7 linked regions of the Homo sapiens genome follow. The protein of the gene in region 2 purifies or fractionates together with the protein of the main gene of each other region. This does not show direct contact. Each region holds a gene or a part of one and is shown on either strand. Other genes may lie near its edges.

Region 1 (3,980 bases), on a different chromosome or scaffold from region 2:
CAATTTTTTAAAATGATGGCACTTTATGGAAACTGAATATACGTCATCTTTAAAAAGAGCTTTTAAAATCCCTCCTTTGGAAGTAATGCAGGTTAATAGATTAGACATTTTATGAAGAGGGCTGCATGATTTTTCTACTGCATTTCTGGTGTTGCAAACTTTGGTGAAATTATTAACTGCTATTCATTTTTTCCAACTTTTAGTTGTCTCTAGCTAGATGTTGATCATTATTACACATCTGTAAAGAAAAGAGCAAACCAACTTGAATTAGTGTTTCTTGAACTATTCATTAGAATTTAAAATTTTTTCCTAAAAGTTTTTCAATTTAGTGATCCTATTGGTAAATAAAAAGAATAAAGGCATGCAAATTAAAATAAAGGTAACATTTCTATTAGATGTTTTTAAACCCCTTTCCTTTGTGACCTAGCTTTTCTATCTTGGCTTTTCTATCTTTTCTTCTCTTCCTTTCCTTTCCTCCTTTCTTTTTCTTAAGTTTGTTTATGCCTCAGTCATCTGGTCGCACGTGGCTATGTTCCACTGTGGCAGGGCTTAGCTGGCAGTTTCAGGGATATCTTAGTTTTAATAAGTATTGTGGATTTCCTCACATCTAGGGTGGAGAGAGATTGGTTATAGGGTGATAAAAACAGAAGAATCTGTGTTGAAGGAGATGGGAAGATTTTAAGAATGCTAACGAATTTGAGCAGGGCATAAAACCAACCCATGAACAGGGCTACAGTCCTCTCAGGGTTGCCTGAAGCCTCAGCCCTGGAGGACGTCTGACACCTTACAGGTAGAGGACCTCTGTGCAGGAGCCCTCAACACCCAGGGAGGATTAGGATATAAGCGCAAACTCAAAGGTACTGTAATGGGCACCTAGCAATCAGAGGTGATACAAGGGTCTCTTGGCCCGAAGTATCCCCACCTCTCCTCGCTGGAAAGGACGCTGCCTAAGCCTCATCCCGAGCTGGGGGCGGAGGACCAAGGGTGAGAGCCACCGCCTCCGCAATCCCCCGCCCCTCGGCACCGTCGCTCAGCGCGCTCGCCGGCTCCCTATTGGCCGAGGCACTCGCCAATCCTGGTGAAGCGGCCCCGTGAGTTGGCCCTGGTTGGTGGAGCCGGCACTGAGCCCCCCTCCTGCTCCGGCCGAGCCCCCCCGCCGGGAGGGGGCGTGGCCGCGGCCGTGGACGGGCCGGAGGCGGCGTCGCTCGCGCCGCTGCGTGCGGTGTGGTGCGAGGCGGGTGCGCCGGGCGGCCGCGGCGCGGCGGGACCATGGAGCTCAGAGCGCAGCCCCGGCGCCGGCGGCGGGACCGCGGACCGGTGAGTGAGGGCTGCGGTCGCCCCGGCTCTCCGCTGTAGGCTGCTGTGGCCCTCTCGGCTCCGGGCCGGGCGGCTGTCGGGGGAGGGGCGGCCCCACGGCGAACTGAAGTTGCTGCATCGCCGCGCGCTCCGGCCGGGCGGCGGGGCCCACTGCGGGCTGCGGCGCCGCCTCGCGCCTATCCCTGCAGCCCGGCCGCATTCTCCCGGCCGGCTCCCGCGCTGGCAGGGGCTTCTCGCCGTCACGGCGCGGCCAGGCGGCCCTTCTCTCCCGCGCCTCCGGGCCTCCGGCCCTTTGCCGTCCGGTGCGCGCTCCCTGGACTCGGGACAGCCACCCGCCCTCCCCGCCGTAAGTGGCGCCCGGGCCTCCGCTCGCGCCCCACGCACGACGCCCCGGGCCGCTCCGCGTCCGGGACCTTCGCATCCGTTCAGTGTCTGCGCGCCCTCGCTGGTTCTGGTCCAGCTCCGCGTGCCCCCCGGCCCCATTCGGCCCTCGCCGCCCTGGCCTGTGCCCTCTTGGTGCCCGCGTGCGTGTTGGTTGCGGGCGTCCTCTCCCTCGAGGCTGCGGTGCCGCGTGGCTCCCGGCCTCGGAGACCAGGCCGGACTCTTGGAGTGCAGGGGAGGAGGTGGGGCGGCCCGCGAGTGCGGGGGACCGCGCGCACGGAGCCGCGGCGCGCGGGGTATCATCCCCGGGGGTCTTTACCCGCGCGCCTGGGCTTTAGCGAGGGCAGAAGCTTCCTCTCAGTTTGTGGTGCTGACGTGCAATGGCGATTGCTTCTTGATTTGGCCCCTCTGCAAGGGAGAGTTCCCTGGTGGAGACGAGAGTTCTTAATTATTCAGAAACTATGTGATGGGCTTAGGGATCAATGGGAGCATCATAGGAATTCTTTCTCATTTTAAGGTTAATTTTTAAATTAGCGGTTTACTTCCAGCAACAGTCTCGAGTTTTCAAAAACTGAAAATTAAAAAGACTACTTTTCGCAGTTCTTCAAATTAAATGCATAGCAGAACATGGTATTTTAAGATTCAGAGTCTACTTTTTATAAGGGGGAGAGGATAGCTATTTGAAATATTTTGCATCTTAAAAATTAGGTTTATCTAAAGCTTAAAATGCGACTCTATCAAAACTAAGTTCAAAGTATTGTAATTGACTAATCTTTCTATTGTCTCTAGGGCAAATTCTATTGCTTCTTTTTATATGTGCTTTACCCAACTCTCCTTTTCTAGCAGTTAAACAATGCAGTGGTTCTTTAAAGCTAGTTCTTTTATCTGCTTGAGAGGTTAAACAAACGAAAGCTGGGTTTGACCTTTCCCAAAGGCATTCTCATTGTGTCCTCTCCAGCTCCCTTCTCCCAGGGTTCTAATGACTTCAGTGTAGTACTCATTTTTCTTCATCTTGAAAGATTTTCTTAGTTGGTATTCACAAAAGCTGTGTCTTTTCACATGTTTAAATATTGGAAAGTTTGGTCAACTATTATATTTACCTTCCAACCTGTGCTTATTCTAGAACTATGTACATATAGAAATTGTTCTTGCATTTCCAGTTGGCTGACATGAAGTTGCTTAATAGCATTTGTTTTTAAAAAATCTGTTTGCTTTAAAATTTACAACCTAATAGTCAATGATGTGCTTCACTATCTTCAACAATTACGAAAACAAAGGTGGAACACACTTTGCTAAGTGGTCATGCCAACATTGTAACCTCCTATCTCTTGTCAGTGTGTCTTTGTAGTCACACGTTACGGTTCCCATAGAAACCTATGTATGGCAGGTAACCTTTTGGTTATTGGGATGTTTTGATTAAAACAATTGCGTTATAATGCAAGTATTAAATGAATTGTCCCTACTCACGGGCTAGTACTAGTGATCGTCTTTGGAATTCCAAGGACTTTCTTTGAAGAGTACTCCCAGATTGTTTTTCACTTTGGGTGGCTCTCCATTGCTGTAGACCTTGAATCTCTTTTTCTTTTCTTTTCTTTCTTTCTTTCTTTCTTTTTTTTTTTTTTTTTTTTTTTTTTGAGACGGAGTCTTGCTCTTGTCTCCCAGACTGGAGTGCAGTGGTGTGATCTCGGCTCACTGCAACCTCCGCCTCCTGGGTTCAAGCGATTCTCCTGCCTCAGACTCCCGAGTAGCTGGGAGTACAGGCGCCCGCCACCATGCCCGGCTAATTTTTGTACTTTTAGTAGAGATGCAGTTTCACCATGTTGGACAGATTGGTCTCGAACTCCTGACCTCAGGTTGATCCGCCCACCTCGGCCTCCCAAAATGCTGGGATTACAGGCGTGAGCCACCGCTCCCGGCCGAATCTCTCAACTTCTCTTCTCAGTCCGTTTTAAGGGCCCTGTTTCTTTCAAGTCAGGCTTTTTTTGGCTTTGCTCTTGGGCATGTGGAACTAAATGCTTCTGACAGCCCCACACATTCTTCTTCAGGGCTGGTTCTTTACCTGTGGCTTGACTTTATGCTGGTAATACAGAAATATTTTATGCCAGTAATACATAAATGATGTACATTATAAAATAAACAATATCAACACAGAGATTTATAGAGGTAAAAAGTCTTAAGTTTTCTTTTTCCCGTCTTATTGTTGTCCTATTCCTATTTCTTTCTTCAGAGGTAACCATAATATAGGGTGTATCCTTCTGGATTTTTTCCATTTAATACTGTAG
Region 2 (3,500 bases):
AAAATTATATTAAAGGCTGGGCGTGGTGGCTCATGCCTGTAATCCTAGTATTTTGGGAGACCGAGGCGGGCAGATTGCCTGAGCTCAGGAGTTCGAGACCAGCCTGGGCAACACGGTGAAACCCCGTCTCTACTAAAATACAAAAAATTTGCCAGACAAGGTGGCGTGCACCTGTAGTCCCAGCTACCCGGAAGGCTGAGGCAAGAGAATTGCTTGAACTCGGGAGGCGGAGGTTGCAGTTAGCCAAGATTGCACCGCTGCACTCCAGCCTGGGCAACAGAGCGAGACTCAGAAAAAAAAAAAAGAAAAAAAAAAGAAAATTATATTAAAGAGAAGTAACCATAGAAATGCAAGGGGTTGCTATGCCTGTGTTTATAAGTTTAGTCACCTGAGCTCTAACGACCCAGTCTGGAAGGAATGGGCTCTGGGCCTAAGAACAACTTTGCTTGACTGGGCGTGGTGGCTCACACCTGTAATCCCAGCACTTTGGGAGTTTGAGGTGGGTGGGTCATGAGGTCGCGAGTTTAAGACCAGCCTGACCAACATGGTGAAACCCTGTCTCTACTAAAAATACAAAAATTAGCTGGGCGTGGTGGCGCGTGCCTGTAATCCCAGCTACTCAGGAGGCTGAGGCAGGAGAATCGCTTGAACCCGGGAGGTGGAGGTTGCAGTGAGGCGAGATTGCACCACTGTACTCCAGCCTGGGCGACAGAGCGAGACTAGGTCTCAAAAAAAAAAAAAAAAAAAAATGGACAACTCTGCTTCCCTGGTCTGCCCCTCTCAAGCTACAAGATGCTGGCAGGTTATTCACCCCTCCAAGCCTCAGTATCCTTATCTGTAAAATAGGGATAATAAATCCTAGCTTTATAGGGGCCTTTCCAGGATCAAATGAGCTAACAGACATGCAAGTGCGTTGTGAACTGTGGAGCATGGTGCAGCTGGCAGCAGGTTTCTGCTGTTGTTATGCTGCTGAGGACTTGAGCATTAGTTAAGTTCACCCTGATCCATGTTTGGAAAACAGCCCATGATGATGATGATTATTGAGGGGGATTCACAGAGGATAGAGTCTCACCTTTGTCCCACAGGAGGACTCAGACATAAGAAAAAGTTAAAAAAACAGGCCAGGCACGGTGGCTCACGCCTGTAATCCCAGCACTTTGGGAGGCTGAGGCGGGCGGATCACAAGGTCAGGAGATTGAGACCATCCTGGCTAACATGGTGAAACCCTGTCTCTACTAAAAAATACAAAAAATTAGCCAGGTGTGGTGTCGGGCGCCTGTAGTCCCAGCTACTTGGGAGGCTGAGGCAGGAGAATGGAGTGAACCCGGGAGGCGGAGCTTGCAATGAGCCGAGATCGCGTCACTGCACTCTAGCCTGGGCGACAGAGCGAGACTCCAGCTCAAAAAAAAAAAAAAAAACAAAAAAGAACAAGTTAAAAAAAACAAAAACAAACAGGAATCCATATCTTCCAGAAATATCACCTGGACTCTAGACAAGTGTGTGGGTAGGAAGTGTTTCTGGGACAGATGCCAGGATTGGAGCCCAGCAGATAATCAGGGGAGGCTTTCTGGAGGAGGCGAGCGCCTATGGAAGGAGGGCAGGGTCCTGGCTAATCTGAATGGGAAGAGAAGTAACAGGAAGGCTGCTATGTGCTATATATACCCTGGCCAGGCATTTTCATCAAAGTCTTCCTATGTCCTTACAGCAACCTGGGAGGTGGACAGTTACCACCATTTGTAGGTGAGAAAAAAGGGGTGAGAGTAAGTAGCCCGAGGTCACTCAGCTTCATTTATTTGAAGAGGACATATTCTTTACTCTGGAGTGTAAGGCACTGTTCAAGGTGATGTGAATGCCAGAGGACCAGACAGGCAAGGTCCCCATCTATGTGGAAGTGAGGTTCACAGCATCACAATGACGGAGCCACTCAGTCTGCCTCCAGAGGCCACACTCTACAAAGAAAATTATATGATGATGGCTGTGTTTCTGACTCTGGAGGCAGGTAACCTCTCTAGAGTTTTAGACAAAACCAGTTTTGGGGAAAGGGGTATGTAGTCCTCCTGAGGGTTTCTCTTGTGCAGTGGGCAGCGGCTGAGGGGTGGGAGTAGGCATGGCTCTGATACTGAGAATTTGAGAGCTACCCTGCCAGGCCTAGCTGACTTAGCCCCATGTTAACTCCAGTCAGTTCACTGTGGCCTCTCCAAGTTCCCTCTGGCCACTCAGGGAGGACTGTCCTTTCATGGTGTGGAGTTGTGGAGAGAACCCTGAGTTTGAGTTCTGCTCTGTTGTATGACCTTGGGTAAGTCCTGCCCCTCTTTGGACCAGACATGCCCTGTCTTGACAAAGATGGTTTTTTTTTTGTTTTGTTTTGTTTTTTGAGACAGAGTCTCACTCTGTCGCCCAGGCTGGCGTGCAGTGGCGAGATCTCAGGTCACTGCAACCTCTGCCTCCCAGGTTCAAGCGATTCTTCTGCTTCAGCCTGGGACTACAGGTGAGTGCCACCGTGCCTGGCTAATTTTTGTATTTTTAGTAGAGATGGGGTTTCACCATATTGGCCAGGCTGGTCTCGAACTCCTGACCTCATGATCCGCCCGCCTTGGCATCCCAAAGTGCTGGGATTACAGGCGTGAGCTACCGCGACTGGCCGACAAAGATGGGGTTTAATGGCCTCTGAGACTCTTGCTAGTTCTAGGATTCTGTGAGTTTGAGAATGGGCTGAGGGAGCAAGCCTGTAGGGGCTGGGGGCTAGGCATGGAGATGGGAGCTGTGTCCAGGAAAGGAGAGCTGACCTCCAGCCAGCCAGATAAGACACTGAGACCCAGTGGCCTGGATGTCATAGGAAGGGGAGTAAGGTGGCTGGGCGTGGTGGCTCACACCTGTAATCCCAGCACTTTGGGAGGCTGAGACAGGTGGATCACTTGAGGTCAGGAGTTCAAAACCAGCCTGGCCAACATGGTGAAACCCCGTCTCTACTAAAAATACAAAAATCAAAAATTATGGCCGGACACAGTGGCTCACGCCTGTAATCCCAGTGCTTTCGGGGGCCAAGGCGGGAGGGGATCACCTGAGGTCAGGAGTTTGAGACTAGCCTGGCCAACATGGCGAAACCCCATCTCTACTAAAAATGCAAAAATTAGCTGGGCATGGTGGCATGCATCTGTAATCCCAGGCTACTCGGGAGGCTGAGGCAGGAGAATAGCTTGAACCCAGGAGGCAGAGGTTGCAGTGAGCTGTGATCACGCCATTGCACTTCAGCCTGGGCAACAAGAACAAAAAGCTCCGTCTCAAAACAAAAAACAAAAATTAGCCAGGCGTAGTGGCAGGCGCCTGTAGTCCCAGGTACTTGGGAGGCTGAGGCAGGAGAATCACTTGAACCCAGGAGGCGGAGGCTGCAGTGAACTGAGACCACGCCACTGTACTCCAGCCTGGGCGACGGGAGTTCAACTGGGCAACAGTTTCATTCAAAACTCAAAAAAAAAGGAAGGTGGGTAAGGAGAGTCCAT
Region 3 (3,500 bases), on a different chromosome or scaffold from region 2:
TGGTCCAGCAGTTTCATTTCTAGGAATTTGTCACTCATGTGCCTCATGCCAGAGGTGCCAGGATGTTCACAACAACATTACTTGCAATGGTGAAAGGTTGGAAATAATCTAAATGTTTATTATTAGGGGAATGGTTACATACACTATATTTAATTCATACAATAGAATACAATGCAATCTAACAATGAGTGAGCTCTCTATGTACCAATGTAGAATAATATCTAATATATTAAAAGCAAAGGGTAAAACAGCACATATGGCACAATGTGTATGTGTATTTGTTGGCACATGCATAAATTACATCTGAAAAATACCAAAGAAACCAATAAAATGCCTCCAGAGGAAGAAGTGGGGATCAGGAGACAGGAAGCATTGGAGGGATATTCACATTCTCTTTTGTCTCTTTTGAATTATGAACAACTTATAGGTATTACCTATTTAGGCAACCCTTTTAAAAAGAAACATAGCTATGAGTTAAAGTAAAAATGCCTTATTTTATTTGTTCGACTAATATTCATTGTCTACCCCTGACCCACAAGTGTGATAACGAGATACGCAGTCAGGAATTTGCTAAGGCTTTGGTCCTATCTGTTTGACAGTCTCCTTGGCACAGAAACAGCCAAAGTTCAACTCAGTCAGCTTGGAGATCTATCTGAAGTCTCAGAGGAGGAGGCAGTTCATATTTTCAAAGTGTTCAAATTAGCCTGCAGTAAACTTAAAAGCAGATGTGACAGCAAGATCAGATGAGTTTTGAAACTTACCAGCGGTATCTTTTCAAACCATATAAAATAGGAGTTTTTTGAGCTTTTGCTGTGTGGCAGCAGCAAGAGTCAAAGAGTAGCTACTGGCTTGGCCCAGAGAAACCAGCTAGTTAACAGTTTGGTGTGGAATTCACAAACCCCTCAAACCTTTGTCTATCTGGCAAAGAAAACACACACACACACACACACACCACCCTAACCCCAGGAATCTCCTCTTTCTAAATATAGCAGGAAACTGCCCAGTCTCCAGCTTACCCAGGGCAGCATTCTGTGCCTTCCAATCAAGGTGAAATGAGCCAGACACAAACATGCCATGACAGCTCGTGGCCCACACTGCCAAGCTGTTTTCCTTACCATTTCCTCTCTCTCCATTCTGAGGTGCTACAAAAATGTGTAAACCCCAGTCACTATAATTTGTAAAAATTCCTCTGGCTGCTAATGCTGTTGTTCTCACCCTAAATAAACATGATTTCCTTCCTAGTCCCTGAGCCTGGAGGTTAGAATAGACTCTTAGATATGGGCAAAGCCCCATCCCATCTCCCATCTGACCTATAAGAACATGCCACTCAGAAAGCATATCAAGCAGTTCCAGGGCTAATAGGGACACATCCAATTAATTGTCATCTCTCTTTCCCTGGCACACATACACACACACTAAGTTTTTTTTTTTTTTCTATCCCTTGGTTGTTTTAAAATCAGTGTCAGTGTCTAACAGAAGGGTCTGTTAAGGATGCTTCTGATTTAACCAAAAGATTAAGCTTCAGAAACAATCTAACATACTCAAAGGAGCACCAAATTATCAACCGGCTACAAGGATGCAAAGGACCTAAACAACAGATGTCAAAGGGCTTGTAAAAACTGGAGCCAGCAACCATTCCACTTGAAGGAATCCATCTCAGGGAAATGCTGGAATCCACACACAAAAGCAGGTGTGCAAATAATCACTGCAGCACGCCTTCTAATAGTGAACAACAGAGACAATCCAAATATCCTTCAACAGGAAACTGAGTAAATACCAACTATGGCATATCCACATAAAGCTCTCTGCAGTCATTAAAAAGAATGCACTACATGCATGTACTGACATGGAAGGTCTTCAAGACAAATGATCAACTCGAAAAGCAAAACACAAAATAATCCTTATAGTATAATCCCATTTATGAAAAAAACACGCAGAAAAAGGACAAGAAAAAATGCATACCAAACTGCTAACAATGATTGTTAGCTAGGAAAAGGGGGTGCTTTTACACTGTATACGTCTATACTCTTTGATGCTTGCATGAGAATGTATTCAGGAACTATCCATGTCATAATATTTTGTCTTTGCATTATAAGATTAGGTCATTCATTCATATTGTTAATTTTACCCCTAAACCTAATCCTTCCCAAGCAAACTATTTTAGCAAATAGTACCATCATTCACATAACTGCTCAGGCCAAAAATATCTGAATCATTCTAGACTTCTTTCTTTTCTCTCATAGCCCATATGCTGTGCAGCAAATCCTGTGGGCTCTACTTCCAAAAATACCCAGCCTCTGACCACCATCTGTGATGCTGTCACCCTAGCCCACGGTGCCATCATCTCTCACCTCAACTATTACAACAGCTTCCTTACTGGTCATCTTGCCTCCATTGTTGCTCCACTACGCTTGGTCTCTACACAGCTGCCTACATAATCTTTTTAAAGTATGAGTACGATCATGGCACAGCCTTCCATGGCTGCCCATCACACTTAGAATAAAACTCTAAGTCCTTTCTAGAATTCAAGATCCCTATGACCTTGCCCTGGCCTATCTCTTTGTGCATTCGCCTTCACTCTGCTACAGTCACAACTGGCCGCGCCACTGGCCCCCAAACATCCCACTCAATCTCCCCGCTAATGACTCCTACATTGGTTACCTCCATCCAAAAAGCCATTACTCTAGTCTAGGGCTCTGGAGGACATGGTAAAGGCAGAGCAGGGTCTCCGTATTTCCTGAACGAAACTCTTCTTCTGATGGCAAAAAATATATAATTTGAAACAGAAGGGGTTATAATTTTAAAAGGTAAAACGAGGCTCACTCAGAAACTTAAATCTAGAAAAACTACTTTGACTGCTAGGTTAGTATTCCTCCACTGGCTAATTTTTAGAAATGCAATGACCTTGACAGGATAACAAAGTCCCCTTTACAACTTGCTTTCCCCAGTAGCTCAATGGTGATAACAGTTCTTCCTTGGCCGGTTCTCATTTTGTCCATTGAGAGGGCTTGGATCATTAGCTTATGCAGGCCAGAATTAGGAAGTCCAGCCTGTGTGGCATCTGCCCAGAGCGATGCCCACTGGCCTAACAAGAGCAGAAATCTGAACCACAGCCTCATAAGAACCACTTCCTAATTCCTGAGATCCTGAAACTGATCAGTTAAATACATCTAAGGTTGAAGCACATGGAAACAAATAGTCCCCAAAAGAGGGCAAATGGAGAAAATATACTAAGTGCTGTTCACTTAATCATCAAAAGTTTTATGAGACAAAGTAAAGGAAAAAAAAGATCTGAATAGACATTTCAGCAAAGATGACGCACCAATGGCCAACAAACACATGAAAAGGTGCTCATCCTCATTGGTCACCAGGATAATGCAAATTAAAACCACAACGAGATACCACTTCACACCCACTAGAGTGGCTACAATCAAAAAGAAAGACAACAACAAGTATTGGCGAGGATGTGGAGAAATCAGAATCCTCATACATTGTTGGTG
Region 4 (3,500 bases), on a different chromosome or scaffold from region 2:
GAGAACCTTAAAAGATTACCGCTCATGCTAAAAGTATGTAAAGATCCCATGTACAGTATGATAGTGTACTTTTTTTAAAGGACTGTCAATATACAAAACTTTAAAGATTAAAAACATTAAAAATAAAACCATGTCCATTTAAAAGTATTTTATTTTTTTCCAGTCAAATGACTAGTTAACAAGAAGAGTAAACTTATTAAACATGCTCTAATTATAAATCACTGCATTAAGGACAATGAAAATAATCAATTTCGGTTATACAATATATACAGTTGTGCTGCAACCAAAGTAATCAGGTGAATGAACTGAATATCATACATCTCAAAATAGCATCCTAAGCTGCATATTATGTTATCCACCCCTTAACAGATCACACAGTTACTCTTAGTCTGTGTACATGTTCTGAGCCATCATCCCAGATCTGATGGAGAATGGCATGCAAAATGCCAGAATCCTGCAGCTGCAGTTCATGAAACATAAACTTTAAATATAAATAGATATCTACAATGTTTTTCTTTCTCTTAGTTGCTTTTTTAATTTGCAAGGAGCAAATAACTAAGAAAGGATATTAGCAGGGTCGTTAATATAATTTCTCCTCTGGTAAGAGTACTATTAGTTACTGCACAATAGCACCAAATTGTAGACTGGAAAAATATTTCCTAGGTATTTATGTACCAGTGAACCTGACAGATTAGTTTGGGACTGGAGTTCTAATGTTGATATGAATCAACTTTATTCCTTATATAGCTGGCACCAGGTGGTCAAAAGGCTGACTATAAAATACAGATGCAGGAGGATTGTTAAAATAGACATAAGTGCACTGTGCAAAATACATCTGTTTACTTAAATCTATGAGAAAATTAAATGAAGGGTTCAAACAGAAATTAACAATTAGTGAAAACAGATGTAGTGCTTTAAAAAAAAACAAAAACAAAAAACTACAGATATAACACATTTTTACCCGGAACTTTGAAAGGTAAAAAGCGATTGCTATACAACATCATAAAACATTCCAGTTTGTTCTGTCTTCCTTTATAACAAAAACAAAAAGTACAATGCCAAAAAAAAAAAAAACTCTACACAGTCTTGCATAATAAAGACAAGCTGCTTCAATCAAATGCACCATCACAACAAATGCAGTTAACAGCATTGCTGCCTCACTTTCCAAGCCTATATGCAAATTTATTCCTTTACTTTTGTTAAAAGTCCAAGTGGGTATCATATGCCTATTTATTCTCAGAGTGCCAAAATTTCCAATATTCCTACTATGAATCTTACCCTCGCAATTACTAAATAGAGGTATGACAGTCAAGTTCATTAAACGAATGAGTTTTGGTTTTATAATAGACAACCTAATCCTCTACTACCACCCCAAGTAGCTTAAGAATGATATGATGGCCTGAAACAGTAAAAAGTGGGATGTTTGGGAGTATTACCTGGGACCTATATATTTCTGATATGTTCTTGATTATAAACAGATGGACAGATTCAATTTCAAGACAGTGTGACTACCATTCCTGTTGGAGTATTATAGAAATACAAGACACTAAACTGAGTAAACATTCTCCTGGGCTAGAAGGGAAGGCAGTGGTACACTCAGTAGGAAACAGCAAGTGATGTGTTAATACAGCATGGTCTGCGCCACAGAATTCTACTGTGTACAGTTGCTTTCTGTGTGACTCAGGAAGTTCAAGAAGGCAAATTCCAAAACACCTAAAGCATATAAACTAATTTAAAAGAACTGTTTTGCAATCCATCATCCTTAGTTTTTAACCAAATTCAGGAAATGCAGTTTTATATAACCTGGAACAGAATGAACTGTAGTTACCCTACGTTGTCATAAACCATCAGTAGTTTTGTTAAGTATGATTGTTCACAACAGGTTATACATACATGCAGAATATAATGATAGCTGCAACCTCACAAATTAGGGCTAGAAAGTACAATGCTAATGTGTAAATTTCCAAGTTGCTTTTTAAACACTGGGTGGATTTCAAAGGAATGTGTGTCTTTAAAGGTGAACTGATGGCATTTTATCGAGAAAGTTCAGAGCTGGGCTATGGACTTCTGAAGCAGCAGTTCACTGGCCGCCTAAAATAATAATTGTGATAAAGGTCACCAACTCCAGAACTGGGCCAAGGAATGCAGGAAGAATTTATTCATTAATGCAAACATTTTTAGGTTTAGCTAATTCCGTAGAGGCAGGATCTTGATTATGTATAATAGTTAAAATAACTTTTCAGTTCACCTGTTGGGAAATTCAGTTTTTCCTAATAAATGCATAGCAATGTTTCATGAAAACCACAAATTATAAAAACAATTACTGATATGTAAAAATTGCCTCTGAGTTTTTAAAACAGAGCAGTGGCATTAGAGAACATGGGCTGCCATACAAACAGTTCATGAAACTGGTTATCTGGCAAGAGTTTTGGTACCAATAACGAAACAGGAACATAACTGTTAATGCTTTTGTTCAGTAGCAATTCAGTCAGCGATAAAGTGCACAAATGACACCGGGAATGCGCCTTTGCGACCAGGATCTCCATCAATGTGGCCAATCTGAAATGGAGAAAAGTGTAGGTTGTTATTAAAATTCCAAATGTTGGTGGAAACTTTGAAGAGCATTACATAGAGCGTTTGGTGAAGAAAAGCAAGATTGGTTCAGAAGACTCTTCCGACAAGGAATTACTTAGGTAAAACATCCAAATGATTTTTGTCCGTTTTTCCTCACCACATTTCAAATAGTGCAGGCCTCTCCCGTGTAAGGAGCTCTTCCCAGCCATGTCCCAGATGTTCGCTCGTGGGGATGGCCACCCCCACCTGTTCTTGGGAGGCACACAGGTCAGCTGTCTGACCACTACTTCCCACTTGCCATTTTTCAATGAATGAATGAATGAATGAACTGAGTGTCACAAGTTTGTGAGCTGCAACGTCACCTAAAGTGGCAAAGGTATAAGTTGGCCCCATTTCAATGAGTTAAGTACTTGTGGAAGGCTTCACTCTATCCACTTATGTTCCCTCTTGGGTAGATACATAAATTATATCCAAATATGATCTCAAGAGTGTAAATGATGTAGGCAAATAAAAGGCTAAAAACAGCCAAAATATGAATGGTGGGCTTTTTGTGGAGTGGGTGGGGGGTGCTGTGGTTATGGGCAACTTCTGTTTTCTTCTTTATGCCTCTATTTTCCAGTTTTGGAAATGAGCAGGTATTTTCCACATGGCTAAGCCTGTGGTCAGGTTGGCGCCCCTTCCGGATGGTGGGTTGTGGGCAACTGTGGGAGCTGGCTGGTTCCCGAGTAGCTGGGATTACAGGTGCCTGCCACCACACCTAGCTAATTTTTTGTATTTTTAGTAGAGAACCATGTTGGCCAGGCTGGTCTCGAACTCCTGACCTCAAGTGTTCCGCCTGCCTCGGCCTCCCAAAGTGCTGGGATTATGGGCGTGAGCCACCGCGCCCAGGCCACAGACACTTTCAATCCATTAAGGGCAAACGAGGC
Region 5 (3,963 bases), on a different chromosome or scaffold from region 2:
GATAGTGACTTCTATAAGCAGTATATGTGTTTACTAATGTTTAATAGCATAATACTGGAAGAGTGTTTCCACCTCTTAATATGTCTCTGTATTTCTTCCCGAGATGGATCTGTAGATCACTAGCAAGACAAAATCCTCACCAGATGTTTTATGCCTCCCTTGAGTGCAAATTCTATGAAAAAACTGAAATAGTGTAAGGCAGTAAAAATAATTCTTTAAATATAAATACTGCATATTCTTTTATCTGGATTTCTGCTAATCTATTTACAGGTGTTTTAAAAAGCCACATTTTTTGTGACAACTCAGGGAGTTTTCCACCATTCTACTTTTTAACCAAGTTTGGCACTACAGGGCAGCACAAATAAGAAGCATTTGTATTTTTCTTTATGACTGCATAGCACTGTGGGTTTTCAAACAGGAAGACAAATATTGAATTTGAAATTCACTCCTTACCAGCTTTTTAATTTCATATGGCATTCTAATAAATTTTTTTTATAACTTAAATTTTAAAACCTTATGATGAGAAAGCAAGTTTTTTATTAAATTTACAAAGACTTCAACATCTAAATAATGGGAATAATAGCTGTACTTCATGTTTGAAATTAAACCGAGAAACAAGAACCTCAAATTTGAATTTAAGTAATTCTCCTAAACAAAACAAAGACTTCAATTGTTATTGCTTACCGCCTTCTCTTTTCTTTTCTGTTTAATCATATTGGAAAGTACTTTAGCTCGAGATTGTCCCTCTCTGTCCAGCAGATAGGCAGGTACTGCTCCCTGTGGTGTCTTTTCATCATTCTTTTGTTTGGTGTTTCTCTTTTCATGCATCTTGATACTACCAAGAAGGAAAAAAGATTCAAGATTATCTGTTTTAATAATGATTACTCAAAAGATGTTAACTTGTTATGACAAATAAATGAGACCACTTACGTCTTTTTCATTTGTATTTTCTCAGCATGACGCTGTTTATGGTAAAGCTTAGCCTTCAGACCAATCATTTTCTTTGCCTTCTTTGAACGTTCATGAGCCTCTCGACTTTCCTTCTTTCTCTTTTTCTCATGGTAATCCAAACGGTATCCATAGCGTTTACGGTGTAATTCAATATATTCATTCTGTGGCTATAATGATGGAAGAAATATTATTTTAATTTTTTAAAGTACTGACAATTATTCTAAAATGCTTTCTTTTACACAGCACAAAGACCCTGTTTCATCCAAATGTTCACTTACTTAAATGATTCTTGCACCATTAAGTTTATTCACATGATGTAAGTTAAATTTTGGTCTTGAATGATATGAGGCATCAGGGCTTACATCTCTAATAATCTCATTAGGGAATGGTCCAAAATCTACTGGACCACAAAAGGGATGAACTGATTACAGTATCTTTTTTCCTTGACATAATTTGCTTTTTTAATAACACCTTCATTTCACATTTAAAAAATTTAAGTCAGTTTTATTGAAGCATAATTTACACACAGTAAAACCTGTCCTTTTTAGGTATACAGTTCTAAGTTTTTCCTAACTACACAGTTCTGTAACCACCACAATCAAAATACAAAGAATTTCCATTTCCCCCTAAAATTCCCTATGTAACTTTTAAGTCAATCCTCTTTCCCAACCCTCAGTTTGATACCTATCCCTACAGTTTTGCCTTTCCCAGAATGAAACAGGGATCAACAGTAGTACATAGCCTTTTGAATCTGGTTTCTTGCTTTTGGGATTCACCCAATTTGCTGCAGGTATAGGAACTTCAATCCTTTTTATTGTTGAGTAGTATGCTATTGTATGGATACACCACTGTTTACCCGCTGACCAGATGATAGGTATCAGGGTTGTTCCCAGTTTTGGGTGATTACGAATAAATCTGCAATAAACAACTGCATGCAAGTCTTCATGTGGACGTGTGTTTACTGCCAGACCGTTTTCCAAAAGTGCATTATTTTTCTTTTCACCAGCAATGTATGGGATGCTTTTTGCATTTTAGACACGTTTTAAACACGCGGCCAGGCGTGAGTCTATTCGTATTTTAAGGCTGCAAAAATAAAAATGATACAAAGCCAAGTCCAGCACAGAGAGCAATGTTAAGTAACAACCAACAAGGTGTGCTGCTACCAACTGCTATCACATAAACTTTGCAGCAATCACATGAAGGGTGTATGGAATGCCATTTTGCAAAGAAACGCAGATTATAGAGACGTAACACAAAGAGAAAGGACCTGGCAGTTAGATCTGGGCCGTTAAGCCCGGCTTCGCAATTCATTAGCTGTCTGGTCTTTGGCAAGGACGCCTTCAGTTTCCTCAGCAGTAAAATGAAGGGGGCGGGACTGACATCTAAGACTGTACAAGGGACAACCATATTCCCATTAGGCTCTGGGGCTGATAACCACGCTTGTGGTGAAATCAGGAATTTTTAGGACTCTTAGCGGTGGATCAAAAAGAAAAAAGAAAACAGGACAGAGTAAAATCTTGCTCCAAAGCTTGTGTTCTGGCAAATACCGTCTGTGTCTCGAATGTGAAGTTGTTTCCACTCCTCAGAGCCCACCCCACGGGTCTACCATCCTTTTCTCTTGGCAGTTCTCATTTCCGCCTACCACCGCTCACCCCCTACCCCAGCGCCCCAGAGTCCTCAGGTCCCACTAACTCAGACGCTGTGTGTCGCGAGCGTCCGAGGCATCCTCCTTACCATGGTGACGGCCGCAGAGCCGCCAGGAGCAGCCGCTGGAGTGCGAAAACGCTCTCAATTTTCGGGTCTCAAAGACCCACAAGCCCACACCACGCAGGCCGGGACAGGAAAGAGTCACCCTTTAAAACGGCCGAGTGAAGAGCAAGAACCACGCAGCGGTTCCGAGCCTCTGTTTTCCGCTTTTAGCTAGGAGGACGGAAGTTGCTGGCAGGCGGCATTTGGCCGGTACACCGCCGGAAGTGTGGAGGTGTGGCTGCCCGAGGCGGTAGAGCGGAGAAAGCCTATTTTCTTTTCGTTTAGATACATTGCCTTTTGCCTAGGCTGGCGTCGAGACTTGAGGCCGTTGCAGACTTTGGCGCGGCTCGCGCCTCCTGCTTCAAGAGCCCAGCGGTGAGAGCTGGCCTGCGGCACGCGGCCTAATGCCAGGTGAGTACTGCTCCGAGCTGTGAGACATCGCGCGCCTGTGACCCTGTCACAGCGCTGGGTACCGCTGACCTTTCAGGCTGCGACGGACACAGCCAGCCACGGAAGAGGACAACAGGGCCTCCGGACTCCCCTCGGTGTTCGCTCAGTATGGAAGTTTTTCTCTATCATTCGGCGAAGTCGACTCATCTTTGTTCCGGTCACTCTGTGTAATGTGTGCATGATTGTGAAGGATACTGAGGAATGAAAACTTAGTGTACAGAAAAATGGAACTACTGGGGCTTTGCAGCTGTTAGAAAAGAAGAAGATAACATTCTGGTTTTTTGGAGGTACAGGACTGATTCCAGAAATTTCTGAGGCATTTTGGTGCACCGAATCAAATGCTGAGTGGACTTGTATTTAGTGGCCCCCTAGTGTCAAGAAGTAATTAACTACCAGAAAGTACGTCTACTTAAATACACTATCAGGTTTACCCTTTTACTGCACAGTTGCAGAAGTTCCCTTAATTACTTCACAGCTTGCAGCGTGATTCAGTTGATGAACAAAAAGAACTGTACCAAAAGAATACTTTCATTAATTCTTAGTGCTTGTATTTGAGGCAGTATTTTGTTTTTGTTTTTGTTTTTATGGGTATTTTGAGACGGCATCTCGCCCAGTCGCCCAGGCTGGAGTGCAGGGGCACGAGCTCGGCTCACCGCAGCCTCGACCTCCCGGGATCAAGCGATCCTCCGACCTCAGCCTCAAAAGTAGCGAGCTACAGGCTCGCGCCACGAAGCCTGGCTGATTTTTGTAGTTTTTGTAGAGATGAGGTTTCACCGTGTTGCCCAGGCTGGTCTCGAACTCCCGGGTACGAGC
Region 6 (3,500 bases), on a different chromosome or scaffold from region 2:
CACTGATACTAGTTTTGTATATCATTGTAGACATTTTTTGTGGGCATTCAAGGAAATGCATATCTTTCCTCTTACTGTTTTACACAAATGGTAGCATACTGTACACTCTGTTTTCTTAAAAATGTCTTGGGAATCTTTCCACTTCAGTATATAGTTTCCTTATTTTTTTGAATGACTGTACAGTATTTCACTGTATGGATATACCATAGATTATTTAACCATTCCCCCACTGACAGACATTTAGATTGTTTCCAGTAATTTACCGTAAACAGTGCTACGAATATGCTGTTTCATATGTGAATAAATATATTTATAGGGTAAATTCCTAGAAATGGAATTGTTGGGTGAAATAAACACACAAACACATATATTTACATAAGTATATATTTATGTAATGCGTGTATATGTGTATATATTTGTAATTATTTGTGATTATAAAATATTCTGGTCATATTAGAATGCTTTGGAAGGAAACAAGATTGAGTGTGGGAGACAGCTGCCCCTAATTAAGGTTACTGTGGATAACATAGGAGAGAAAAGGTGGTGGCTGAGAGAAAAGAATGGTCGTATTGGAGATGGAGAGAAGTACATATATTCATGAGATATATTTAGGAGGCGTAATTGATAGGATTTGGTGGTTGATATGGTACAAGGGTTGAGAGGGAGAAATGAGATCCTAAGATGACTCCCAGGGTTCTAGCTTGCCCAACCAGTGAATGGTGGTGGTGTTACCTGAAGTAAAGAACATTTAAGGATAAATAGTTTTGAGATGAGTTTAAATCACAGTTTACATTGGGACTGCTGAGATTTTCAAGTGAGAGGTCACATAAGCATTTGACAATTCTAATTCAGAGCCAAGAGCAGAGGGCTAAACTGGAGGCACGAATTTTTAGGTGTAAATTAAAGGCTGTGGATGAAATTATCTAGGGCAGTGGTTGCAAAGCAGTAGCCTACAGCTGAATCTGACTCACAGATGTTTTGCCCATACAGTGGTTTTGTTATTGTTTAATTTTGAATTAGTTGCCAATATTTTAAAATCTGAAGATTTCTCATGAAAAATCCAGATTTGGGGTTTCTCTTTAAAAATGAGAAAATGTAGCACTACTGAGTTGGTTTTCCAATATGGCAGCAATAATTGGAGCTAAGTCACAGATGATCGCAGCTCTTCTATTTCACTACAGAGCCCACCACTCCCTAAAATTATGCCTGGCCCACTTTGCTCATTTATTTCTCTGACTGTAGGCTTTTGAGCATGTGATCCCTGGTCTGGGAAGAGAGCATAGAACAGTGTTCTCATCTTGGTTGCACATTGGAATCACTGAATGATTAAAAAATGCTAATGCTGTGGTCCACCTAAGAAATTTCTTTTTCTGTTTACTTGATCTGATTTGCTGCCTTGGACGAATCTGAGGTGATTCCACTTAGCTGTGGAAGTTGAGAACCACTGACAGAGATTAAGAAAAAAGGGCTCAGGCCCAGCATTTTGAAGTTTAGTAGAGGAGGATAGCCCAGGAAGAGAATGAGAAGTGGCCACAGAGGTACAGTGGAATGACGCCTTGCTCAGAATTAAAGTGTGCAAACTTAACTGAATGCGCTCTACCATGTTTTTTATTAAATGAGAGAGAGAAAAGTTTTATTTACTTGTATACAGGTGTGCGATATTTAACGGGCCATTTAAAGGATTTTCAAGAGTAATTTAAACAATATTTGGTTTTTGTCTTAGCTGTTTCCTTCACAATCTAATTCTAGTTTAAGATGCATCATAAAAGGTGAGAGAAGAATGTTTCAAATAGAGAGGTGTCATCAAGTAAAGATGTGGAACAAAAATGATCTGTTGAATTTAGCAAGATGGAGTCTTTGACCTCAGCAAGAACCATTTTAGATTGGAAGAGGCAGAAACCAAAATGAAGTGGGTAAAAAGTAAGGAAATGGGAGTGGCAAGTGTTGGAAATTCCTTTGAGAAGCTTGCCCAAAAAGAGGAAGTGGTGAGGGAGGATGAGGTGTCTTACATGCCTACAATGTAGGTGTTAGTCTGTTGGTTACTCAAACATTTCTCCTAACTTTTTAGGGATGTAGGTCAATGGTGTCTGATTACCCCTCTCCCACGTTCTTAGGGGTCTTGTTTTGGAGACTACTTTTTACTGAGAAGAAATTTTGCCAGGACTGTTGAAGGGGCTGACTCAGATGTTGGTGATTAGGCCACAAGTTTCTTTCTCAACTGGAAAGCTGTAGAGCTCCTAAAGGCCAGTGGTGATCTGGGCTCCAGTGACCCTGACATCATCCTCCCATTGAGCTGATGAACAAAGACTATATTGTTGGTATGCTGAAAATGGAATACTTGGCTATGTTAGGGAATGTGTATCTAACTGTGAGATTCCCAGGAATAGTTTTTGCAGCTGTATTTTTTCCAATTAACTTGATATTATAGCTTAATTTTCCAGTTGCATGCATGTAAAAACTCTCATACTTTGAAGTATTTATCATTGATGGTACCTGAGGGATATGGATGTAAGTTGGAGATGTAGGCCCTCATTGAGCTCAGAAAGAAGAAAGCACTGAGCAAACTGGTTTCCAAAAAGTTGTGTGAAGGCTTCTACCTCGAAGACTTGGTGTTAGAGTGACTATTTAGGATGGGTTGTAATGCAAATGGTCACAACCAGTTTGTCTTTTATCCATTTCTGCCACATTGGCAACCTTAACCTAGCAGAGAGGCTTTTAAGGTCAATTTTGTGCTTCATATTTCTAAGAGTTGTAGCCTGCCAACAGAACAGAAAATATAAGGGGTGGAAAATGCCAAGAATTATTGGTTAAGAATGGTTTTGATTAATTGAAGGCATAAACCTCATTGCTATACTCTTGAAAACAGGAATATCATCTTGTGAGGGACCAGACTTCATAGCTGTCATTGGTTTATCAGTTAGGTGGATGATGGTTAACTTCTGTATAAAGGATGACTTTGTGACATGAAAGCAGACCTTGGTCCAAGATGGTTTGTAATGTGAGTCCATTATAAGAAAATATCTTATTTAGAAACTTGTGTATGCTTGGACAGCTGTGGGAATTCCATCATCACAAATATGGTTAGGTACTATGCCTGGCTGGCAGTATATAGAGGCAAAAGTCCATTACCAAGGTGGTCCAGAGCTCCTTTGGTTTGTGGAGGAAACAGGATAGCTGAGTGGGGAGAGGACTTGGAGTCAGTTCCTGAGTATAGTTCCTGGATTTGTCAAGGGTGAACTGTGTGATTTTTTTTAATTGAGGTAAAATTAACCATTTTAAAGTGTACAAATCAGTTACTTCAGTATGTACATTCACAATGTTGTGCAGCCATCACCGCTAATTCTGGAACATTTTCATCACCCCAAAAGGAAACCCTGTACCCATTAAGCAGTCACTCGCCATTCCCCTTTACCCCTACCGTCTGGCACCCGCCAATTTGCTTTCTGTCTATATGGATTTGCCTGTTCTGAAGATTTCATATAAATGGAATCATACAATAT
Region 7 (3,500 bases), on a different chromosome or scaffold from region 2:
CAAGTTTTGCAAAAAACTGGTTGAACATTGAGGGCACAGGATGACTATAAAGGAATCTGATCGTTCTCACCAAATCCTTTCTCAGGTCCCATCATTAGAAATCTTGGGTAACATTAGCCCTTTAGGTATAATTATTTTTATCCCTTTATTTTATTAATAAGTCATCCCTGATTAGGATTTTATGGATTCCACCAGATAACACCAAGCTGCTCGTAAACTATCACATTTCACTGCTTTGTCAGGTTTAGACTTAAAGCAGAACTGAAGAACAGCAAGTGCCGATATCAATTTTCTCTGAACTTCCTCCTGTGGGGCGGTGAGAGAGGGATGTGGGGCCTCCTGGGGTTTGGAAGGAAGACTGTGGAGATGCGTTTTACCCTCCACAGACTGGCTTGTTTTGCGGTTGGCTCAATAGCATATCTTGGGTGTAGTAGTTTTAATAGCACTGCAGAGAGCCATAAACAAGAATTATAGCCATCATGGAATTAAAAACATGCAGTGTAGAATTAAAATTAGAAAGTGACTTTTTTTTTAACCTTGTCCAAGAAACACAATAGCATACTGCTGTATTCATCAGCATAATCTGCTTCTGCCATCTGGTGGCCATGAATAATACTGACCTATCAGACAACTGCCATGCTCAGCAAATGCTGCAGTGAGCATCCCTGTAGGTTCTCTATTTGGACAGCTGGAATAGCCTTGCTTCCACCATGAGGGAGTGGATAATGAAACACAGACAAATGAGGCTGTGGTGACAGCAGCTCTGTGCTTCTTTTGGAGGTGAGACTGTAAGGAGAGAGCTGGAGGACCAAGATTAAAACCTAGAAATTGGCTGCCTTCAAGATCTGCTTGATAGCAAACCCCCCAACAAATTTTATTGAAGGCAAGGGAGTGTTGTAGAACCTAAGAGTCAAAAAGCAATAACGTATGCTGCCCACAAGGAATCCCTGGTCTAGTGGAGAGACAGACAAGTAACCAGGTAATTTCAATACAGTGATAGGGAGGCTAAGAAGAAATGTACCAAGTCATTTCATAGAGCTTCAGGGAGGGTTTTGTGGAGGATGTAGCATCTACATGTATTTCAAGTTATTTAGGCTCTGATTACTTTTTTTCCCCCTTAGTAATTCTTTAATGCTCAGAGCCAGTAATGGCTTTATGTGATGCTATCATTTATGTTCATAAATCATGGAGAGAGAGATTCATAAGCAACTATAAATAGATAATTATATTTTATATTTCCTTTCCTTTCAAGTTGGAGGCTGCAGCATAAGTTTCATTGGTCTAAGGGAATAAGGAGCAAGATTCCACTGCAGTTTCAGGCTGTAGTGGACTAATGTTCTCCCTACCTCAGCACCAGAAAAAGGTATTATTAGGGAGCCATTAATCTAGCCTGCCTACTCCCAGCCTAGAGCAAAGAAAGATATATGTTTAAGATTGTGTAGGAGGGGAGCGATTGAATGGAAAATTGAGTTGATGTCTCCCTTCCAACTACTCCCCTCCTTTCACTTCTTCCTAACCAGTAACACCTGTAAGTGACTCTTCTGTACGGATTTAAGAATGTAAACACTTTTCCTTGTGTTACCCATTTAGAAAAGCCCACTGTTTGCTTGCATAATGATGGTGGCATTGGAGGTGGGCACTTTAACAAGGAAGACATTTATCTTAAACAGCCTTCGGATAAACATTGACTTTGGAGGCAGTTTAGCAAAGACTACCTACATGGTTTTGAAGACTTTGCTCTGATTGCTTATGGGAGCCAACATTTGTCAGAAGAATCCCAAGCAAAGGGAGATGGGGAATACTATCACATCTTCTAGACACAGACACTACGTTCAGGCAGCGAGGCACACGGACAGCCAAGTCAGACATGGATAGAATCAGAAAGTTCAAGAGTGCTCAGTTCCTAGTTTAGGGGGCAGCACATTGAATGGGGCAAAGAAAATGGAGCCAGCATTGGGCAGGCCTGTCAGAAACAAGTAACAGGACCTAGAAAAGCGCATGGCAGTAAAGGCACCCACCACAGCCCATTCGAAATACAGAGAAATGTAATACATTCTAATTTTAAAAGACTAGACTTTAATGAAAGCATAAATTCACTCTCAGTCACTCAGCAAACATGTGATGTAAATACTCCCAACATGAGTTATTTCCAGGTACCAACAGTTGAAAAATGGACTCACACAAATTCCTGAATATGTAGCAATCAGCTCCCCTGAGCCAGTGACAGCCAGCTCCCGTACCCAGTGGGTGGGCCGGGCAGCTCTGTTTTGTCTGTGCCTACTTTCCACTCCAGTACTGATGGCAGCAAATCTTCCACTATGTTCTCAACTTTTGTTGTTGTTGTTGTTGTTGCTTATGTTGTTTTGAAATAAGTCACACTGAACTCAGAAGTGAGCCCTCTTGTACAGATTATGAGATGGATCCACTGAAATGTATGCATCCAATTTCATATTAATAGTAAGTGAAAGTTCAATTAAAAACCATTCTGAAAATCTTATTTGGTATTCAAATTAGCTAAAGTAATGAAAACTCACTTTTTTTTTTTTTTACAGCCTTTTGCTAACACTCCCAAGGGGAAAAGAGAAATTGAAAATGCCAAGTGTATTTCAGTATTACTGCTTTTTCTCCTTCTCAGAACACCGGAGCCGGAGCGATCGCCGAGAGCAAAGAGCAGCTGCCCCCCTTTCCATTGCAGCTCCTCCACTGCCAGCCTACCCTCCAGCTCACAGCCAGAGGAGGCGTGAGTTTAAGGACCGTCACTTTTTAACGGTAAGTTTGGTGGCCACCTGCAGCCCTATGCTTGCTGCTGAGGAAACATCAGTTTGTCTGGGAGTCAGTTTCCTGCCTCCCAGTGAGAGAGGCTGGGCTGGCTAAGAGCTCAAATCATGGGCATTTGGGAACAAATTAATTTCCCTTCCTTTCATTCCTGAAAGAAACGCCTCTTTTTTGGAATACAGACATATTTTTTAGTTAACTGGTAGCACAATGCAGTAAAGCAAGAATAATTACAGACTAAAATCAGGAAAAAAAATACATACTTCAAACCTCGGTTCTTCTGCTTGCAAGCTGAAGGATTCAGGATAGGTTACTTATGTTCTTTGCCCTCAGTTCCCTCATCTGTAATATAGGGATATTAATAGTACCTGGTTTATAGGGCTAGAGGATTAAATGAGATAAGGCATGTAAAGTGCTTAGCCCAATGACTGACTGATACAGAGTAAGACCTCAAGAAATGTTAACCACAGCTGCCACTACTGTTATTACTGGTAAAGTGACAGCATGGCTGACTTGGTGGGGTGAACTGGTAAAGAACTTAAGTGATACGAAAAATTACCATTTGAAGAGTAATCATGTCATCATTTCATGCTTTCCCATTCTCCAAAGGAGGCTAGTTCTCCAGGGTAACTTAATACCATGGTGACGTCATCGCCTCTGGGGCTTTCAGCCCTGACCAGATGGATGTGGCTGTAACTCAGCCCAAGCCCTCAAGCATGGGTCAC

Evidence for each region.
Region 1: the proteins of NHSL3 (region 2) and WASF3 purify together in Homo sapiens (affinity purification with mass spectrometry; one large-scale study listed by BioGRID and IntAct). This does not show direct contact.
Region 3: the proteins of NHSL3 (region 2) and ARHGAP26 purify together in Homo sapiens (affinity purification with mass spectrometry; one large-scale study listed by BioGRID and IntAct). This does not show direct contact.
Region 4: the proteins of NHSL3 (region 2) and ASAP2 purify together in Homo sapiens (affinity purification with mass spectrometry; one large-scale study listed by BioGRID and IntAct). This does not show direct contact.
Region 5: the proteins of NHSL3 (region 2) and NSA2 purify together in Homo sapiens (affinity purification with mass spectrometry; one large-scale study listed by BioGRID and IntAct). This does not show direct contact.
Region 6: the proteins of NHSL3 (region 2) and PPP2R3A purify together in Homo sapiens (co-immunoprecipitation; one large-scale study listed by IntAct). This does not show direct contact.
Region 7: the proteins of NHSL3 (region 2) and NHS purify together in Homo sapiens (affinity purification with mass spectrometry; one large-scale study listed by BioGRID and IntAct). This does not show direct contact.

Annotation. Positions count from the first base shown.
Region 1 is NC_000013.11:26,556,503-26,560,482, forward strand, and holds the start of WASF3 (actin-binding protein WASF3), read left to right. Parts: upstream 1-1,180; 5' UTR 1,181-1,317; exon of another isoform or gene 1,318-1,663; intron 1,664-3,980. UniProt on the Homo sapiens protein: Downstream effector molecules involved in the transmission of signals from tyrosine kinase receptors and small GTPases to the actin cytoskeleton. Plays a role in the regulation of cell morphology and cytoskeletal organization.
Region 2 is NC_000001.11:32,744,830-32,748,329, forward strand, and holds part of NHSL3 (NHS-like protein 3), read left to right. Parts: intron 1-3,500. UniProt on the Homo sapiens protein: Able to directly activate the TNF-NFkappaB signaling pathway.
Region 3 is NC_000005.10:142,776,877-142,780,376, reverse strand, and holds part of ARHGAP26 (rho GTPase-activating protein 26), read right to left. Parts: intron 1-3,500. UniProt on the Homo sapiens protein: GTPase-activating protein for RHOA and CDC42. Facilitates mitochondrial quality control by promoting Parkin-mediated recruitment of autophagosomes to damaged mitochondria.
Region 4 is NC_000002.12:9,402,312-9,405,811, reverse strand, and holds the end of ASAP2 (arf-GAP with SH3 domain, ANK repeat and PH domain-containing protein 2), read right to left. Parts: intron 2,560-3,500; coding exon 2,485-2,559; 3' UTR 134-2,484; downstream 1-133. UniProt on the Homo sapiens protein: Activates the small GTPases ARF1, ARF5 and ARF6. Regulates the formation of post-Golgi vesicles and modulates constitutive secretion. Modulates phagocytosis mediated by Fc gamma receptor and ARF6. Modulates PXN recruitment to focal contacts and cell migration.
Region 5 is NC_000005.10:74,766,086-74,770,048, reverse strand, and holds the start of NSA2 (ribosome biogenesis protein NSA2 homolog), read right to left. Parts: upstream 2,801-3,963; 5' UTR 2,689-2,800; coding exon 2,686-2,688; intron 1,119-2,685; coding exon 931-1,118; intron 836-930; coding exon 685-835; intron 1-684. UniProt on the Homo sapiens protein: Involved in the biogenesis of the 60S ribosomal subunit. May play a part in the quality control of pre-60S particles.
Region 6 is NC_000003.12:135,968,728-135,972,227, forward strand, and holds part of PPP2R3A (serine/threonine-protein phosphatase 2A regulatory subunit B'' subunit alpha), read left to right. Parts: intron 1-3,500. UniProt on the Homo sapiens protein: The B regulatory subunit might modulate substrate selectivity and catalytic activity, and might also direct the localization of the catalytic enzyme to a particular subcellular compartment.
Region 7 is NC_000023.11:17,689,700-17,693,199, forward strand, and holds part of NHS (actin remodeling regulator NHS), read left to right. Parts: intron 1-2,635; coding exon 2,636-2,769; intron 2,770-3,500. UniProt on the Homo sapiens protein: May function in cell morphology by maintaining the integrity of the circumferential actin ring and controlling lamellipod formation. Involved in the regulation eye, tooth, brain and craniofacial development.